2 separate regions of the Homo sapiens genome follow, and region 1 is linked to region 2. Evidence: fine-mapped expression QTL. A gene starts in region 2. The other region holds a variant in brackets. All regions are shown on one strand. Distances are from middle to middle.

Region 1 (5,373 bases), 43 kb before region 2:
GGCTCTGGGTGGGCAGGGAAGGGGAGGATATGGGGAGATATACCTTCTTCAGGAACCTCTGGTTTCGGCTCTGTGGATTATGGAGCTCTAAACAACATCAGCTTTTGATGACTCTCTATGTAGTCAGCCGTTTTGTCCAGCCAGCCGATCAGCCATGGAACCAGCTGATACCAGCTCAGCCTTTCTATCCATTGACCTATTCACAATCAAGTCAAACTGTTCCATGCATGAATCCTCCATCAGTCAATCATTCCATCACCTACCCATACTCCATTAATTCATTTTACCCATTCATACATCTACACATCCTCTATCAATTCAACCACCTCAACCATTCACCCTCTACCCATTTAGCCATTCTGCCCATTCATTCTATTCATCCATCTCTCCATCCCTCTATCTACCATCAATTCAACAATTCTAACAATCAAGTCAACATGTTTGTCTCTAACTTCTCTACCCTCTTAACCATGGCAGACCCATCTTCCTCCCCAAAACCCACCATCCAAGCTTCAGCAACATCAGTATAACTAGGAGAAAACTTCAGTGTGACCTGCATGGTTCTGGGCCGAGCCAGAGATTGCTGTGGACCTTAGCGAGGGATATTCAGGGCAGAAGGTAAGCAGCGGGTAATGGAGGCTGTGTGTATGTGTGTACATGGTGGTGGAGTGTTGGGGCAGGGAGGTGGGAGTGAAGGATTAGTTAGGACCAAGAGCAATCATGGTGGGATGGAGCTACTGCTTGACTGGGAATCTGATAAACCTGGATTCTGGTCCCAACTCTGATGCTGCTTCTCTGAGTTACCTAGGGCAAATCACTTCCCTTTTCTGGGCCCCAGTTTTCTCATCTTTCAAATAGTAACTTCTCAGATTACTGCGTAAGAATGCATAATTTGTTCCTTTCTTAATTTAACCAAAAATGAGCACTTGCCACATGCCAGACACTGGACTAGGTACTAAGGTTATGAGGATGAGTCTAAAAGAGATGGCTTCTGCTATCTGCAAGTTTATCATCTAAGCAGGGAGAAGTGAAATATGGACAAAAGTGACCATGCAGACAATGCCAAATGATACAATGAGCATAAAACAGGGCAATGCGATAGGGTCTACCTAAGATATAGTGGTTAGGGAGTCATCTCCAAGGTGACATTCAAGCCGAGACCAGACTGGCCTCAGCCACACAAAGATGGTGCTGGAGCAAATGCTCAGGCTCTGTGGCTGGGTGTGTATGTGTAACAGGAGATGAACGTTAGCAACTGTTTCCTTGGCATCTGCTGTGAGATCAGACCTTCCCAAGTGGTGTTGGAGAGGTAGTGTTTCTTTCTTCTCAAAGAACTTACTCCCATGAAATTCAAACATCTGGAGAACGGCTGTGCTAAAAGGTATATTACCAACCTGGAGGACCTGAGGCATTTGTAAGAGGACTTCCTGGAAGAGCTGGAATTTGACAGGAGCCTTGTGGAGAGGGAGGGGGAAGATCCAGACCTGTGGTACTAGGAGAAAGAATAAGGGCGAACATGTCACACCCACATGAGACCCAGAGACTCATCTGTCCCACCACTGCCACCTGTGGAGAATGCAGGGGAGCATGTGGGCCCAGGAACTCAAGCATCATTCTTGAGACTCCCAGGAGCCATCAATGACATGTGAGCAGTGAGCTGATCTTGTATGGGTCCCAGGGAAAGAGTGGCTCAGAAAGACCCATGAGGGGCTATCACCCAGCTGGAGGCCATTTAAGAACAGTATAGGACAGGGAAACAAGGTGCTCTACAAGCTGTGATTTGACAAGATCACCACTTTCAGTAGCCCTGAAAAGGAGGCCAGTGGCACCCAGTGAGGGTGCCCTGTGGAACCCAGTGAGGGTGCCCTGTTCCCCCCGAACTTAAAACACTCTGGCTCCACCTCGCTCCAGTCATTTGTGTAGCCTGAGCTGGCACATAGCGACTTCCCGAGTTCATCTCTCCATTCCCTGCAGTGGCTGCAAGGATGTGATAAAGGTGAACTCCACAGAGGCCTTAGGCATTGGAAAGGGTAAAGGATCATTCTCCCACTTGTCAGAAGAGGAAACTGAGACCCAAGAAGGGGAAAGGAGCATACAGACGGTCAGGAGACACTGGCTTGGCTTTACCAGGATTTCCCCAACATGTTCTTTAGAAGGGTGGAATACCAGAAAGTTCCCTCCCACCCTACCTCACTTCCTCTTATAACCATTACCTGTCTTGGAGATTCAAAATACACAGGTACATGTAACAGACTCAGTGGTCGGAGTCTACCCAATTTCACTTTGCTTTTCTTAATGTTTCCAAAACACTTTTGGTAGTAAAATTCTTCCTCTTCCTCTCCTTTGAGGAGGTAGCATCCCTACAGAAGCAGAGGGCCACAAAACCCACGTTGGGAAGTACTTCCCTGGACTGAGTTACCTCTGGACACTCTTTGAGAAGGGGAGGGAAACCCAGCTTTTCTCTGCAGACTTGAGAAGCTTAACGTTTTTCACAAAGAACCTGGCCTTTAAGGTGCTCTGACACCAAGCTGAAGTGTGACCTTGGGCAAGTCACTTCTCCTTTCCCCAAAGAGATAAATGGTGCCTCTTACCTGACCCTGGTGTGTGAGTCAGAGATGCACCTGGGGCAGCTGATGGACAGTCCGTTTTTATCCCCTACCGTTGGGCCAACCACTCTACATCAGTGAACAGGCCCATGTGGTACACGGGGAGAGCCAGGTACAGCAGGAGGCAGAGGGCACCCTGTATGTGGAGGGGACCTGGGCTAGGGATGCTGGTGTCTACACCTGCTGGGCCACCAACCTTCAGGGCACTGGTTTGGCCACCACCCATGTCCACGTGACTCGAGGTCCTCGTGTCTCCTCTACCCCTTCCTAGCTCCCTCCCTGGCCACAGGCATCTGGATGTGGAGCAATAGGCAGAATCAGGGGTAGGTACCTGTGGGAACATCAGTGTTTCTGATGCCAAAGAGGGGTCCTGCAGTGCAGAAGGTGACTTCTCATTCATCCTCGCAGTCTCTCCCACCCCATCCCTCTGTTTTCACCACTTACTTCAACCTCAGCCTCACTCCAAGCCTTGGTCTATTTTGAAGGCCATCCTTTAATCCAGGCTTCACCCTAGCCCCAGGCCCCACATCCACAATTAGGGCAAAGCAAGGGCCAGTGGGGCTTTGGTGCTTGAGGAGAGTGCCCAGAACCACGAGTGGGCTACCCAGGCCCCAGATTTACTCTTCAGAGATCCCCACCATTGGCAGAAGTCCTTGTGAAGACCCACCTCCCCACCCTCCCAGAAAAACACAA[A/G]AGTCACATAAATAAGGTGCCGCATGTTCTTTTTAGTTTCCATACATCGTCTGTCCCAGAGTGAGGAGAAGTTGATCTCCTTCCCACATCCACCACAGGCTGCGTGAGGGAAGCCTGGCTCCCCACAACTTGCTCCTTCTCCAGCCCTGCCCCTCTCAATTAAAACAATGCTTTCTTTTTTCTTTTCTTTTTTTTGAGACGGAGTCTTGCTCTGTCACCCGGGCTGGAGTGCAGTGGCGCGATCTTGGCTCACTGCAAGCTCCGCCTCCTGGGTTCACACCATTCTCCAGCCTCAGCCTCCCAAGCTGCTGGGACTACAGGCGCCCACCACCACGCCAAGCTAATTTTTTGTATTTTTTTAGTAGAGACAGGGTTTCACTGTGTTAGCCAGGATGGTCTCAATCTCCCAACCTTGTGATCCACCCACCTCGGCCTCCCAAAGTGCTGGGATTACAGGCGTGAGCCACTGTGCCTGGACTAAAACAATGCTTTCTAAAGCGCATTCTGCAGCCTGATGTGCCTGTGAGGTGAGAGGTGTGGGAGGGACAGAAGCTTTGTTCAAAGAGGTTTGGGAGAGGCTGGATACTTAGCTCCCTTCTTGTAAGTTTGCCACACACATTGGCATATTAAAGGTTCTGAGAAGTCATTCAGGTCACTGATCTGTTTAGGTGTCCCCAAATAACTTGGCCACCAATCATGTCTACTCCTGGACATTAGTTCAATAAACTAGTGTATCGCAGATGTGCTTTGCAAAAAGCTTCATGAAAAAGTACACATGTGATTCCCTCCAGGGCTTTCCTCGAGGCTCCTGGGTGACCTGTCTGACCATGGCTGGAGAATCAGCACAGCACTCCCCTAGCCTCACCTCTTCCCCCATTTGGCTGTGGAAATGGAGAAACACAGTCACCTCTGAACTTCTAAACCTAGAAACAGAAGGAGACTGTACACAGGGGAATACAGAAGGCAGTCTGGGATGATGTCACTATAGAATGACTGATGAAAAATGCAGATTGACTGTTCTGACGCTGGCTTAGGGCCTGGGGCTGAAGCTGGGGACCTTGAGCAAGGCCCTTTGACTCCTGTGATCTGTTTGCCATGTTGCCAATGAGGAATAGGAACCTGCTTCAAGGATCTTATGAGGACCAGGGGAGGGAGGGGTATGGAAAGCCTTTGATGCAAATGCTCTATGCAGAACAGGAGTTATAATTATAGTCTCCATTAGACATGAAGCTTCCTGAGAAGGATCCGAAATCCACAGACTATCAGGACTGGACGGCCTGCTGAGGTTAGTTACTCTAGCCACCCCTTTTCACTGATGGGGAAGCTGAGCACCAGGTTGTAAAAGCCTGGGCCTGGGATCAGGGGCAGTGGGAGGAGGAGTTAAGGCAGGGAGCAGGAATGAAAAAGAAACTAAGTGGGTGAGGGCCAGGGAGAGGAAGATTAAGTCACAGATCTGATTTTCCAGAGCCTGAAGAGAAAAACAGAGCAAAGGATAAGACCCGGATGACAGATGAGATCTAGATTCGACTCTGGGAACTGCTCCATGCCTTGGTTTCCTCATCTGTGCAGGGATGAGGTTCCAGCTCTGATAGATGAATGGACTCACAACCACCAAGCTTGCCCCTGTGCCCAGGTGGCACCAAGACTGAAGGGCCAGGAGGGCTGAGGGGATGCACCTTGCCTGGTAAAGGAAGAGGAGCTCTGGCTACTGTCCCTTGGTGGACACGACTCTGGCCCAGGAATGATGCCTCAGCTGGGGAGGCTGCCTGGCCCTGTCAGCCCCAAGGGCCTTCAGAGACCCCCTCTCTACCACTCACCTTCCCCACTCTGATTTGCGGGGTTTGTCCACACTCCCCCCAACCCCTACTCTGGCCTTCAGACAATCCTAGAATGGGACACTGCAGTGACATAAGAGTCCTTTGACCAGTCCCCCCACCATTTTAATGCAGGGGTAAACTGAGGCTCTGAGCAGGCCAGGGTGGAGTGGAAACACCTAGAGGAAGTTGATAAGTCAGCAAGTCGGCAGCAGAGCTGACAAGCTGGGACCAGGGGCTGTCTCCTTTATGTCAAATGG
Region 2 (5,373 bases):
TTTATTCCCAGCATTTCAACTTGTCCCAATAAGGCAGTGACCTAGTCCCAGGCCAGGCCTCTCAGGGTGGTCTAGAACATCTAGTCGGCCAAGCCCAACAGGCACCATAGACCACAGAACTCAGCAGACCCCCAGATCCTTGAACCTGGAGGGACATGAGAAGGCCTCATGGTCAAGCTCCTGTCCCTAGCCAGGATAATCCTTTCTAAAAGTGCCTGCCTCATTCCTTGCTGCCTGCCACCTCCATTCTCCACAAAGAACCCCCTCACGCTGTGCTTTCAGTGGCTCAGCCTTTGCTTAGGCCTTGGCCATGAGTGGGTAACTCCTGCCATACCTTCCAAACCACCCTTCCTCAAAAACCCTTCCTGCATCTCTCAAGGCTAGATGTGATGCTCCTACTGCTCCCTGGGCCAACCCCTAGCATGGCTCTTATTTGTCCCTCATTCACTCAAATATCTACTTAAGCACCTGCTCCATGATCTGTATAAGGCAATGAGCACCAGATGGGGAGTGCAGAAAGCCAGGCTCAACTGCACAGCTTTGCCACCAACTGGCTGTGTGACTTTGGACCCATCGTTCCTCACTGAGCCTCAGTTTCCCCGGTAAAGTGGGAAAGATTCTGCAGCTCAGCCTAACTTCCAGGGCTTCTGTGAGACTGGGCGGGATGTGAAAGCATGCTGTAAACACTCAGGGTGAGTCATGGTTATCAGAACCTAACCCCTCTGTAGCCTGAGCTCATTTTTGTCCATCCCATCCCTGGAGTCCCCCTCTCTCCCAGGGGGCTGGTAGCCTGTTGGGGATGAACTTGGGAGCTCATGCCTTCCAAGGGGTTGGCACCTGGGTGAGAAATTGGGCAGGAGCACAGCCTACAGGGATGAGAACTTTAAACAAAAACAGCCCATAAATCTTGCCATATAGGGGCAGGGGCCTGGCATGGCTGGGGCCAAGAAGGCATGCCAGGCTGTTCTCTGAGGCAACAGGAGTAAAAGATTTTACGCTAAAGTCATCAAGAAGCCACTGGAAGCACAGCGGGAGGAGGTGGAGACAAAGAACACGGAGCTAGGGGACTAGATACCTGGGTTCTGCTCTGTGTTGCTCTGTGACCTCAGTCATGCTCCTTCCCTTTTCTAGGCCTTAACCTCCTATCTGTATAGTGGGTGCGTCAGCCCAGGTAGTACCCAAAGGCCCTTTCCAACTCAGACAGGCTGTGCCAGCTTTACTTGCCCTTCAGAGCTTTGGCTGTGCCAGGGACAGGCAGGAACAGCTGGTAAGTCTCTCAGAAGGAGCAGGAGCCAAAGAACCTGTGCTTACTGTGACCTCCTCTTCCAGCTTGTGGAAGGGTCAGGCTCTTCCCCGTTTCCTCCACCTCTAGGTAGATGGAATTCACCCTTGGTCCACTTTGCAAGCTACAAGGTTGACACAGGTGCAGAGAACACAGACTCTCAGATGCTTAGGGATCATCCTGCTCATCACTCCCCATACAGGGAGAAACTGAGACCCAGGGAGACACAAGGGCTTGCTTGGGGTCACCCAGTATGTTTATGGCACCACCAGGACTTACACCCAGGGCTAATGTCTGCCTACCACTTGCTCAGTTACAAGTCTCAGCCAAGGCTCAGGTCTCTCCGCCTTGTCATCCCTGTCAGCCAGCCCCTTCCTTCTACTGATAGAGCCAAGCCTCAGTTTCCCTGTTGGAGTGAGTAAAGACATGAGGGTTTCTAGGTCAGGAGTTGGTGAGAATTTCAATCTGGTAATAAAGGGAGAGCAAGGAAAGCCAGGAGGTGTCAGAGAAGGGAGTAGAATCCTCCAGGCTAGGACTACTGTTAGGCAGAAAAACCTGTACTCAGGGCACAAGCAAAGCAGGAGCAGAGGGAGGACTAAAGTTCATTGCAAAACTATTAAACACTGTCACAGTTTGGGGCCTCTCAAGGTCTCAAGGGGGAATGATGATAAAGTTTAAGGGATCACCTAGTCCCACCTGGCTAGGGGGCAGGTAGTGGTAAGAAAAGGGGCCAGAATTTGAGGGTCCTTCTTCCCCTCTGCCTCACAGTGTCCCCTGAGGAGGCTATCTTTCTAGCTCCAGGCTCTGACCTTCTGGGCTCGTCAGACCCCAAGGGGCAGCTGGTCTCACTGCAAGAAACCTGAGAATTGTCCCCTGGGCCCTGACCCAGCTCCAAGGCCCCTTGGGGGAAGGACAGGAAGGGAGGAGAGGGCCACAGAACGCAGTAGATCTCCTCCCTCTTTGGCCCCTCCCAGCTACCCCAAGGGCAGCCCACACTCACCAGCTCTGGGGCCTGCAAGAGCCCTAAGACCAGCGCCTCAAACTTTAAAGCGTCATCACCTGGGCATATTGTTAAAAGGCAGCTTCTGTCTTGGCAAGACTGGGCCTGAGCCTGAGATTCTGCATTTCTGACAGGTCCCCAGGGATGCTGATACTGCGAGTCTGTGGAACACTCTTCGAGCAGCCCTGAGATTATCAGCCTTTAACCCCCGGGGGGAGGAAGCCGAAGGCCCAGAGAGGTCAAGTCACTTGTCCATGGCCACACAGCGAACAGCCCCAGACCGAAAGCAGAGGGCACCTGCCACAGACACACGACATCTCCCCACCCGAGGCAGCGGGAATCAGCTGCCTTTCCCTGGCCCGGGTGCCGTGTTTGTAAACTCGGCTGCTTGGTGCGGCTCGGGCCGGGGTAAAGGGCGCCTCCCAGCAGAGCCTCCCTCGTCTCTGAGCTGGCCTCTCCAGGTTCTCCGTCCGGTATCCCGGGCCGACCAGAGAGAGCCCGGGGCGCCGAGTCCTCTGCGGCGGAGCGATTCCGCACTCCCCTCTCCTCTGAAAGCAAACTTCTCCGCCGGCGCCCTTTACCTTTTTCGGGGGTTTGCAGCTGCTCAGCCTGCTGTGTCTGCAGCCCATCCTCCTCCGGGGGCTCCCGGACGCCGCTTCCCAACTCCGGGGCCCCCAGAGGAGCCTGCGATCCGGGCCCCGCTGCCCGCTCCGCGCCCGCCGGCTGGGGCTGCCGGCGAGACCCTGAAACTGAACCTGGAAGCGCTGTCTTGAGCCTGAGCTGGGGCGGCCGCCCGCCGTAAATACCCGAAGAGCGGGGCCTCAGTGTAGCCCGCAGGGCCAGCGGCGCCGCCACCAGAGGCAGGTGACCAGAATCCTTCTAAATAATAGGAAGCTCTGGTCAGGGCAGAAGAAAAGAAAACCTCAAGGAGCAACAGATGCTTTTCCGAACCCTCAGCTAAGAAAGGGCCGGGGGAAAAAATAATTAAAGCAATTATTTGATAAACTAACAACTATCATTCATTGAGGGCTGTTTTTGTCCCAGTTGTTTTATACATTTTATTTCTATTTCTTGCCATATCAGTGCAACAAAGGTATTACTTCCTCCATTTTACAGGTGAGGAAAATGGTGTTCAGAGATGCAACATGATTTGCCTAAGGTCACATGGCTAGTAAGTTACCACAGCCCAGATAGAATCCAGTTCCTTTTTTTTTTTTTTTTTTGCCGCTATCATAGTTCACTGCAGCCTCAAACTCCTGGGCTCAAGCGAGCCTCCCAGCTCAGCCTCCTGAGTAGCTGGGACTACAGAGGCTCACCACCATACCCAACCAAATTCTTTTCTTTTTTCCAGTCTGATTTTGAACGACCGCCCTCAAGCGATCCTCCCACCCTGGCCTCCCAAAGCGTTGGGATTACAGGCATGAGCCACTGCACAGAATACAGTTCTAACTCCAGAACCTAAACTTTGACTCAATGGCCTACAAATAAATCATAATACTAAGTTTATTGTATTTATTTATTTTTGAGACAGAGTCTCGCTCTATTGCCCAGGCTAGAGTGCAGTGGCACGATCTTGGCTCACTGCAACCTCTGCCTCCCAGGTTCAAGTGATTCTCCTGCCTCAGCCTCCCCAGTAGCTGGGATTACAGGCATGCACCACGACACCCAACTAATTTTTGTATTTTTAGTAGAGACAGAGTTTCACCATTTTGACCAGGCTGATCTCAAACTCCCAACCTCAGGTAATCCGCCCGCTTCGGCCTCCCAAAGTCCTGGGATCCCACACCTGGCCAATAATACTAAGTTTAATTTTAATGCCTCCTCACTTCTGGGCTGATAGTTTTTTCCACCTCACAAGCATCTGTAATATTTGACTCTATCCATCTTGGATAGATGTTATTCATCACAACAACCTCTTGAGGCAGGCCAGGTATGGTGACTATGGGACATAAAATGTCAGTGTCTAGGAAAAGGAGCTTTTGTTTATCTTCTCTTTGTTATTAGCTGAGGTTTCTGAAATGGCAATGCAGGAAAAAGATAACCAATTTTGAAAATCAGTGTGTATGCCTATTTGCGTGTATATTGGAATATTAAAGTCAGGCCCAAAACTCTTGGAAAGGTGTGCTGTGAAAACGGCTTAGAGTCATGAATGGGGAAAGAATATGAGACCTCAAAAAAATTGCTCCCTCCATAGGGTACAAAACCAATTGCAAAAGTGTGTAAGAAAGGAAACTAAGGAAACGTGTTATTAGGTTCTCAAAAGCAAGTATAATAGAGAATGGTGGCTCACAAAGTGTGATTCCCAAATCAGCAGTGTCAGCACTACCAGCCGCCTTTGTTGGAAATGCAAATTCTCGGGCCCCACCCCTGGCCTAAACTCTGGGGATGGGGCTTAGGAATCTATGGCTTCATAAGCACTCCACTCATGTCTGGCCTGGGCTAAAGTTTGAGAACCCCTGCCATAGGACGTGCTCCACAGGTACTGAAGAAACAGGATATACTTAAATTATACTAAAATTAACAATGTTTATTGGAACAGTGCTCATGATTAAAAACAAAGAACCCAAAACAACCTAAACAGCCAAGAAAAGAAGGTTGGTTAAATACATTATGCTATATCCATAAAAATAGAATGCCACATAACCAGCAAAAATACTGATGAAGATGAATTTTTTGTGTTACAAAACATAACAAACTCATTTTCATTAAAAAAAAAAATTGAGTGACTACCACTGTATTGGTGAGATTTTGAAATTTTAAAACAGTTTTTTTTTTTTTGAGACAGGATCTTGCAATATCACCCAGGCTGGAGGGCGGTGGAGTGATCATGGCTCACTGCAGCCTCAGTCTTCCAGGCTTAAGTGATCCTCCCACCTGAGCCTCCCGAGTAGCTGAGACCACAAGTGCCTGCCACCAAGCCTAGCTAATTTAAAAAAAAAAAATTTTGTAGGCCAGGCACAGTGGCTCATGCCTGTAATCCCAGCACCTTGGGAGGCTGAGGTGGATGGATCACCTGAGGTCAGGAGTTCGAGACCAGCCTGACCAATATGGTGAAACCCTGTCTTTACTAAAAATACAAAAATTAGCCGGA

Evidence for each region.
Region 1: its variant is fine-mapped to the expression of CCDC69 in whole blood (TOPMed, PIP above 0.99).

The regions. Positions count from the first base shown.
Region 1 is chr5:151,177,741-151,183,113 of GRCh38, forward strand. CCDC69 (coiled-coil domain containing 69) reads right to left here. Exons shown (of 9, transcript NM_015621.3): 9 at 3,312-5,373. It also overlaps the pseudogene PDGFRL2P. Among named protein-coding and RNA genes, the nearest start is that of ANXA6, 23 kb to the left of the region's middle. The variant A/G (reference allele first, on the strand shown) is at 3,300.
Region 2 is chr5:151,221,060-151,226,432 of GRCh38, forward strand. CCDC69 (coiled-coil domain containing 69) reads right to left here and starts at 3,033. Exons shown (of 9, transcript NM_015621.3): 1 at 2,864-3,033. The coding sequence starts at 2,911. It overlaps LOC105378230 (a long non-coding RNA gene), which reads left to right. Exons shown (of 4, transcript NR_160730.1): 4 at 2,417-3,291. RefSeq lists enhancers at 816-1,035, 2,456-2,565, 2,586-2,785 and silencers at 2,906-2,985, 4,469-4,763.